Linked DNA regions of Homo sapiens. The protein of the gene in region 3 purifies or fractionates together with the protein of the main gene of each other region. This does not show direct contact. Each region holds a gene or a part of one and is shown on either strand. Other genes may lie near its edges.

Evidence for each region. The genes of interacting proteins can lie anywhere in the genome.
Region 1: the proteins of DFFB (region 3) and NUBP1 fractionate together in Homo sapiens (co-fractionation; one large-scale study listed by BioGRID). This does not show direct contact.
Region 2: the proteins of DFFB (region 3) and PIP4P2 purify together in Homo sapiens (co-immunoprecipitation; one large-scale study listed by IntAct). This does not show direct contact.

The regions. Positions count from the first base shown.
Region 1 is NC_000016.10:10,753,842-10,757,341, reverse strand, and holds part of NUBP1 (cytosolic Fe-S cluster assembly factor NUBP1), read right to left. Parts: intron 1,622-3,500; coding exon 1,589-1,621; intron 653-1,588; coding exon 562-652; intron 25-561; exon of another isoform or gene 1-24. UniProt on the Homo sapiens protein: Component of the cytosolic iron-sulfur (Fe/S) protein assembly (CIA) machinery. Required for maturation of extramitochondrial Fe-S proteins.
Region 2 is NC_000008.11:91,034,360-91,037,859, forward strand, and holds part of PIP4P2 (type 2 phosphatidylinositol 4,5-bisphosphate 4-phosphatase), read right to left. Parts: intron 1-3,500. UniProt on the Homo sapiens protein: Catalyzes the hydrolysis of phosphatidylinositol-4,5-bisphosphate (PtdIns-4,5-P2) to phosphatidylinositol-4-phosphate (PtdIns-4-P).
Region 3 is NC_000001.11:3,881,476-3,883,702, reverse strand, and holds part of DFFB (DNA fragmentation factor subunit beta), read right to left. Parts: intron 197-2,227; coding exon 1-196. UniProt on the Homo sapiens protein: Nuclease that induces DNA fragmentation and chromatin condensation during apoptosis. Degrades naked DNA and induces apoptotic morphology.

The sequences.
Region 1 (3,500 bases), on a different chromosome or scaffold from region 3:
ACTATAAAACCATGATAAAAATAATTTCAGGGTTCTATAGCTTTTTTTTTGAGAAAAAGTCTCGCTCTGTCACACAGGCTGGAGTGCAGTGGCATGATCTTGGCTCACTGCAACCTCCGCCTCCTGGGTTCTCCTGCCTCAGCCTCTCGAGTAGCTGGGATTACAGGTACGTGCCACCATGCTCGGCTAATTTTTTATGTTTTTGGTAGAGACAGGGTTTCACCATGTCGGCGAGGCTGGTCTTGAACTCCTGACCTCAGGTGATCCACCTGCCTCGGCCTCCCAAAGTGCTGGGATTACAGGCGTGAGCTACCACACCCGACCAGGGTTCTACAGCTTTTAAGGAGAGAAAAACTCACAGCAGATATTTATAATTACGTAATGGAAACTGGTATTTCTATTAGCTCTTTTCAACCAGTGAAGAAAGAGGCACTGGATGGTTAAAAATAATATACTGTGAAGTCCAGCAGGCTGAGACTGGCAGGACAGGGAGCAGATAAAGCCAAGAGCCACAACGCTCGTGGAAGAATGTGAGAGACAAAAAAAGGCAGAGTGGCAAACCGTTTTTCTTGGGTCCCCTCCAGATAACAGCATCATCAGGACTGCTGAGCAGGAAGCCCACTGACATCACCCCCAGGTTGTCTTCCACGTACTGCAGAGGGAACAGGGTGAGGGCAAGACACGCTTTACTCAAAACCACACAGTGAGGCCCTCCCCCAGGTCTTCTGTTTGAGCTCTGACTGAAAAAAACATTTTCAGGACAAAACTACCATGTGACCTATGAGCATATTCACTCTTTGCTCCTAAATCATTTTTGGAAAAAAAAAAAAGGGTACCATGTTGGGGGATTTGAAAGAGGCACTGTATGTCCATGGGCTGCAGTGACGGCAATGACAGGGAACTCAGCTAAAATAAGTAAATGTCATCTCCTTAACTCTTTTATTTTTTTATTTTTCATTTTTTTGAGATGAAGTCTGGCTCTGTTGCCCAGGCTGGAGTGCATGGTGCAATCTCAGCTTGCTGCAGCCTCTGCCTCCCGGGTTCAAGCAATTCTCCTGCCTCAGCCTCCCGAGTAGCCAGTGTTACAGGCGCGTGCCACCATGCTCGGCTAATTTTTGTATCTTTAGTAGAGATGGGATTTCGCCATGTTGGCCAGGCTGGTCTCGAACTCCTGGCCTCAAGTGATCTGCCTGGCTTGGCCTCCTAAAGTGCTGGGATCACAGGTGTGAGCCACTGCACCCTGCCTCCTTAACTCTCTTAACCAGAGATTTACAAACTATGGACTTCAGGGCCAAATCTGGCCCACCATCTGTGTTTGTAAATAAACTTTTATTGGAATACTGTCCTGGTTGTTCAGTTACATATTACTACTTTTGTGCTACAACAGCAAGGAATGTAGGCCCACATGCTGAAAATCTTTACCGTCCCACACTTTACAGAAAAAGCCTGCCAATCACTGGTTTTAATCACATCCTCTGTGCCTCGAAAAGTACCCTAATAAATACCTATGGACCAACAAACCACAAACCCATTATGTACACACAACCACACACTACTGTGAAAATAGGGCAAAGAGGTGAAAACTCACCACTGGAGACCAGCCTGAGCCACTCTGGTGAACCTGTGTGAACATGAGCACCGATGTTCATTAGTAGAAATCATGTACCCTGGTCACATTTCATGCACAGACAAATTGTACAAAGTAAGACGATGGTTTTTTAAAATATAATTCATTGTCTTACATGGTACCACGAAATTCCTAAAAGGAGGTGAACAGCTAGGGCGTGGGTAATAAAGATGCAACTCAACTCCCTTTGTGCCCTAAGCTGGGTTATTTGGAAACTCTACTTGGATGTCTAGATAGGGAACCAAAGTTACTCAAGTTCAAATATGATGTTGTGTCTAAGGTATCTTAAAAGAGTCATAAAAATCGGCTGGGGACTGATGAGAAAATGCAGATACCTGTGGAGCAATGAGGTGGCTTTTGTAAAAGCACAGGAGTGAAGGGAATGAGCTCTCACGAAACAGCTGATTCAGAACCTGTCCCCAATCAGCTCCAGCCACAAAGGGGAGCTTCCTGGGGCAACAAGATTCAGACCTCTTCCCCCCAGCAGGTGTCCAGCAGCACACAAAGCGCACACTGAAAGTTTAATTTTCTTGATGAAGCCTTACTTTTCTCAACAGATTTACTGAGACATGATTCATAGACAATATGACTCACCCATTGAATGAGTGGCTTTCTGTACAGTCACAAGCATGCAGCCATCACCACAGTTTTATTTTTTATTTTTATTTTTGAGATGGGGTCTTGCCCTGTCGACCAGGCTGGAGTGCAGTGGCGTGATCCTGACTCACTGCAACCTCCACCTCCCAGGTTCAAGTGATTCTCCTGCCTTAGCCTCCCAGGTAGCTGAGATTATAGGTGCCCGCCACCATGCCCAGCTAATTTTTGTATTTTTTGTAGAGACGGGGTTTCACCATGTTGGCCAGCCTGGTCTCAAACTCCTGACCTCAAGTGATCCACCCGCCTTGGCCTCCCAAAGTGTTGGGATTGCAGGTGTGAGCCACTGTACCCAGTCACCACAATTTTAGAACATTTGCCTGACTCTTAAGAAGAATCCCTATACCCCTCAGCTGTCACCACCCCCCACAGTCTGTCTCACATCCTCCCAGCCTTACAGGACCCCTAATCCACTTTCTCTCACTGTGGACTGACCTATTCTGCACATTTCATGTAAGTGGAATCACACAACATGCGGTCCTCTGTGACTGACTTCGAAGTTCTATTAAAAGACACCCAGCCAGGCACAGTGGCTCACACCTGTAATCCAAACACTGCGGGAGGCTGAGGCGGGAGGATCACCTGAGGTCAGGAGTTCGAGACCAGCCTGGTCAACATGGTGAAACCCCAACTCTACTAAAAATACAAAAAATAGCTGGACGTGGTGGCGTGTGTCTGTAATGCCAGCTATTCAGGAGGCTGAGGCAGGAGAACTGCTTGAGCCCGGGAGGCGGAGGTTGTGGTGAGCCGAGATCGCGACACTGCACTCCAGCCTGGGCAACAAGAGTGAAACTCTGTCTCAATAAAATAAATAAAATAAAATAAAATAAAATAAAATAAAATAAACCCCACAAAACCATTCATTCCTATTTACACTCGTTTGCTAAGTCCATTTGTCTTAAAAGAGGGGTAAACAGGATGATCCAATAGTGCAGGAGAAGAAAATAGGGAAACTTCTATTTTCTTTTATTTTAAAATTTTCTGTTTCATGAAATAATTACGTGTGATGACAGTAGCTTATACCTTCACTGTGGCGTGTGCTACCAAATCCATTGGGGTATGTGACCAAGCCTCACAGGGTGACATCGCTCTCCTTCCCTACTCCCTCGGAAGCAAACCCCAAGGCCTTAGAAGTGCCTGCAAGGCCGGCCCCATCTGCTTCGGGCCACCCTCCAGCCCCTCTGGTCACTCCACTGAGGACACAAGGACACCTTGTGTC
Region 2 (3,500 bases), on a different chromosome or scaffold from region 3:
AGAATAATGACAAAAAGACTACAACAGCAAATGAGCTCACCACCATACTGGAAAGCTAGAAGCCGATCTATTTCACCAATGTGTGGGCTCTATTTTTCCTTGAAGAGGATGTGGCCTCAGTGAAGCAAATTTTGATTCAAGAACCATTTTGAAAAAAATTCCCTTAAATGGAGCATTAGCATTAGCATAGCACAATAGGCTTCTCATATTTGCCAAGGCCCTGCTTGCTCAGTATCACAGCAGGTGAACACTCTACTGGGGCTTGGGGGAGCTTCAGGAAGCTGCTCTCAAATATCCTGCATCCTTTTCTCCTCATTGTGACAATCTGGCTTCCAGTGGGTTTCCGAATCCTTGGCAAGTAAAGTGAGAATTTAATCTAGTCTTACAATGGGTTGTGCATGTGGTAAGAGTCCCTGGATCTGTGTCATCTCTTCCTGCCAATCCACAGACAACCTTATACTCTGCAAGTACGCAGGGAGACTCAGCAATTTAAAAGACTGCCAAAATGTATTCAATCTCTTTAATTCAGTAAAAGTCTAGCCTAGTGTAGAACATAGTTAAAAATGAACTAAGACCTTACCTAACTTTAAACTAAGACACTATCTCTAACCTTAGATTTCTCCAGGTATAGGACATGAGAGTCACTAAAAATAAACCTATTTACTGTAGGATTTCTAAGAAAGCATAAGAGTACATATTAAATGATATGTCTCAAAACCAGGAGTCAATTTATTTTATTTTTCTACTCACTGAAAACATTTTCTCAAGCAATTTCAAGATTACATGTTTTTTAAAGGTGAAAAGGATATGGCAATGTCTTCTAAAACACAATTATGACAATTACGCTTCATAGAAAACCTAAATGAGCTTCAGAGTAAAGGAATATTAACCTTTTCATTTATGTTAAGCTGCTTTGAGGTCAGTTTACAATTAAAATAAAGGTACATTGGAATATTACATTAGATGGAAATAGATAATTCTTCAATTCTTTAAAAAGAGCTTGAATATAAACAAATATAAACAACTGTCACTAAAGTCCCTAATGATCTCCATGACACTAACTTCAAAAGACATTTTTGGTCCTTACCATCTTTGCTCTTTCTTAAACTTTTGCATGAAGACTCCTTTCTTGAAGTATTTTCTTGCTCTTGACTCTGTGATATTATCATCTCCTGGTTTTTGTCACCTTGCCGGCAGCTACATTCACCTTCCTCTCCCTAGTCATTAAATGTGAAGGTTTTTCAAAGCTTTGTCCAGGCTTTCTCCTTTTCTTAGATTACTCTTTCTCCCTAGGTTATCTCATATGGAGCGCCTCAAAGTTTTTCACACTGTGGTACACAGAGAAAATGACAATATGTGTATGACATCTTAGAACTGGAGGTCGCTGGGCCTGGTGTGGTGGCTCATGCCTGTAATCCTGGCACTTTGGGAGGCCAAGGCAGGCAAATTGCTTGAGCCCAGGAGTTTGACACCAGCCTGGGCAAGCTGGTGAAACCTCATCTCTATAAAAAATACAACAAAATTAGACGAGTGTGGTGGCTACTCAGGAGACTGAGGTGGGAGGATTAGTTGGGCCTGAGAGGTCAAGACTGCAGTGAGCTATGAGTATACCACTGCACTCCGGCCTGAGCAACAGAGTAAGAACCTGTCTCAAGAAAAAAAAAACAAAACCAAAAAAACTGGAGGCCTCTGGCCTGAAGGCTTTAATCACTACCTTAGCACATGTATGTTCCATCACAGCACATCTTATGGTAGGGCCCTGGGAAGTTCTGAATCAACATCCATGTATTTAGCTATCACCAATATGCAAATAACACACAATTTTATATATTCAGCCCAGGCCCCGTTTCTTAGTCCTAAGAAACGAGGACTAAGAAGAGATATGACAACCGGATCTACACTACAGGTCCCATTTTGCCAGAAATGGGATCTGTAGATCCAATTGTCACATCTCTTCTTGGATATTTGAAAGCATCTGAAATACATCATGTCTAAAACTAAGTTCATTATCCGTGTTCCCCAAAACTCGGTCCTCTTCTGGTGTTCTCCGTCTTCTGGTGTTCTGGTAATCACACCATGACGTTGCATAGCCAGAATTCTAGGAGATACCCTTGACACTTCTCCCTCACTTCCATGTGCAATCCATCATCAAGCCCTGTTCAATCCACCTCCTTAACATCATCCTTCATCTCTCCATCTCTACCACCACCTGAGTCCAAGCTACTGAAATAGTTCAGTTAAATTGCCCGAATTATTACAATAATCAAGGAAGTCATCTATTCTTGTCTACTCTAGCCAATCCTCTAATTCATTCTCTAATCTATAGAGTGGTTTAAAAACTAATAATAAAGATTTAATCCAGTCATCCCTTTGCTTATGGCAATATTCCTTAACATGACCAACAATATCCTGGATGGGCTGATTCATATTCATTATTCTGGTCATCTGTTGCTGCAGAACAAGTTGGCCACATGTGGTTGTAGTAAGAATTTGGCTAAGGCTGGAGTCATGTGAAGGCTCAATTGAGCTTGGCATCCAAGATGGCATCTCCCTTCACATGTCTGAGGGCTGGTCAGGCATCTTTCTCTCTACCAGGCTAGTTTCAGGTTCCATAAAGCATGGCAGTCTCAGAGTGTTCCACTTCTTACATGACAAGTTACTTTCCCCAGAGTGTACTTTACAAAAGACCAAGATAAAAGCTGTAAAACCTCTTCTGACCTACCCTCCAAAGTCATTCAGCATATTTTCTACCTTATTCTAGAGGTCAAAATCAAGTCATGGCATCAGCCCAGATTCAAGGGGAGGAAACTGAATATCAGAAGACATAGTTCTTTGAAGGGGAAAGAGAGTCTTCGGAGAATATCCACCATACCTATCTCTCCAGTCCCATTTTGCAGTGCATTTCCTACTGCTGTTTCCATTTTAGCCACGTTGGCCTTCCTTAAGTTCCTTGTATTTGTCATACTCCACCCTGCTGATCACTTTGCCAATACTGCTTTCTTTGCCTATAATGGTCTTCCAGTCCACCTTTTGCCAAGTTAACTCTTGCTCAACTTTCAGATCTCATTCAAGCATCAAGAAAGCCTTCCCCGACTCCCTCAACAAAATTAAATCTTAATTTATACTCTCAAGGTATTGCATATATTTCCAGCACTGTCTTCATCACCATTGCATTTTGCATCTGTTTGTGTGATTACATAATTTATTTCTCAATACCCCCACTACACTGGAAGAGGAGCCATGACTATTTTTCTTCTCCTACCACAGATTTGGCTGGTACTCAAATATTTATTTGCTGAATAATAAACTAAGTAAATCAAACTGTCTGCCTCTGTATAACAAATTATTATTTTCCCTTTATGAATTATAGTGAAGTATATAATCCCATTTCCATATTGAATACATAATGAGACAACCCCAGATATAAACAATTTTCACAGAAAAAATCTTATAAATTCAAAGGTCATATTCTTTTGTTATATCCTAACTACAAAATTAGC
Region 3 (2,227 bases):
TGTCTGGGGTTTGTAGATTCTGCTTGGGTCACAGTTGAGCTTGTGGGTGGTTTTCTTATGGCAGACAATGTGCACTAGTTTTAGGTTCTCTGAGGTAAAAAGCAGGCCATAAAAATACTCCCAGTCCACTTCTCTTCCATCTTGTTCCTTAATTGCTTCCACCAGTGTAGGAATGATGGTGCGTTTCTTTTCTATTCTGCAAAGTAAGGTTAGAGACATCATTTTCTGTGGTCACAGTGCCACAGGCAACAGGTCATAGCAGTGTATTGCAGTCACAGCTCTTCACAAATTCCCCTAAGTGCTATCACGGACACACGGCCGCACCTACTGGCCAGGTTTGTTGAGCAGAGCCTGATGCAAGCAGCCTGGCTCCTCTTACTTTTTAAAACTTGACTTGTGGCCGGGCACGGCGGCTCACGCCTGTCATCCCAACACTTTGGGAGGCCGAGGCGGGTGGATCACTTGAGGTTGGGAGTTCGAGACCAGCTTGGCCAACATAGTGAAACCCCATCTCTACTAAAAATACAAAAAATTGGCTGGGCTTGGTGGTGGGCACCTGTTATCCCAGCTACTTGGGAGGCTGAGGCAGGAGAATCACTTGAACCCTGGAGGTGGAGGTTGCAGTGAGCCAAGATCACGCCACCGCACTCCAGCCTAGGCAACAAAAGCAAAACACCATCTCAAAAAAAAAAAAAAAAGACTCGTGTCACTGTTCAGAATACTGAAAAGTACGCAGAAAATAAAGGGGGTCAACCACCTTTCCATCACTTACAGTCACCCACCATCAACAACTGGCTTAACTGCCTCCACGTTTCATCTACGTATACATTTACCCCCAAAAAATTACATGATAGAACATGAAAGTTTTACAAACAGAGCCTTACAAAGGAAGCTGAAGTCACTTTTGATACCACTTGTAATCTTATGTCCCTCCTTCCCCTCAGAGGTAATCACTATTAAGGGTTTGCTATTGATCTTTCCAATCCTAATCTTATACCGTTATATGCATATATGCGTATCTGTTTAAGAAACAAATGAGGCCAGGCGCAGTGGCTCACACCTGTAATCCCAGCACTTTGGGAGGCTGAGGCGTGCGGATCACCTGAGGTCAGGAGTTCAACACCAGCCTGGCCAAGATGGCGAAACCTCATCTCTACTAAAAATACAAAAATTAGCTGGGCATGGTGATGCATGCCTGTAATCCCAGCTGCCCAGGAGGCTGAAGCAGGATAACTGCTTGAACCCTGGAGGCAGAGGTTGCAGAGAGAAAGATTGTGCCACCGCACTCCAGCCTGGGCAACAGAGTGAGATTCTGTCTGAAAAAAAAAAGAAAACAAAAAACTACATGAGGCTAGGCGTGGTGGCTCACGTCTGTAATTCTAACACTTTGAGAGGATGAGGTGGGTGATCACTTGAGGCCAGGAGTTTGAGACCAGCCTGGCCAACATGGTGAAACCCCACCTCTACAAAAATGACAAAAAAATTAGCCAGGCATAGTGGCGCACGCCTGTAATCCCAGCTACTACTCAGGAGGCTGAGGCACGAAAATCACTTGAACCCAGGAGGCGGAGGTTGCAGTGAGCCAAGATCGTACCACTGCATTCTAGCCTGGTTGGAGTGAGACTGTCCCAAACACACACGCACACACATACACACACAACATGATGTTGTTTCACTTATAAACCATTTGGAAGACTGTGCAGTAACAAGTGGGGTTTAGAGACCCCACGGCCAGGAGGGCTTATGGTGGGTGTTGAGTGAGCTAAACTGGTGCAGACCCCTCTCCCTACAACCCACAAAATGCTGAGCAAAAGTCGCCTTTTTTTTTTTTTTGAAACAGAGTCTTGCTCTGTCACCCAGGCTGGAGTGCAGTGGCACGATCTCAGCTCACGGTAATGTCCGCCTCCTGGGTTCAAGTCATTCTCCTGCCTCAGCCTCCTGAGTAGCTGGGATTACAGGCGTGCGCCACCACACCCAGCTAATTTTTGTATTTGTATTTTGTATTTTTAGTAGATGGGGTTTCACCGTGTTGGCCAGGCTGGCCTTGAACTCCTGACCTTGGCCTCCCACAGTGCTGAGATTATAGGCATGAGCCACCACACCCAGCCAAAAGTCACCTTGTTAAAATACTTAGTTGAGATCAAAAGAAAGGGGCTCCCCAGCTGCCAGAAACCAAAGAGAAATTAGTGCACACAGGCAAGCTATGGTCCAGGGGCCTACCAGGGTT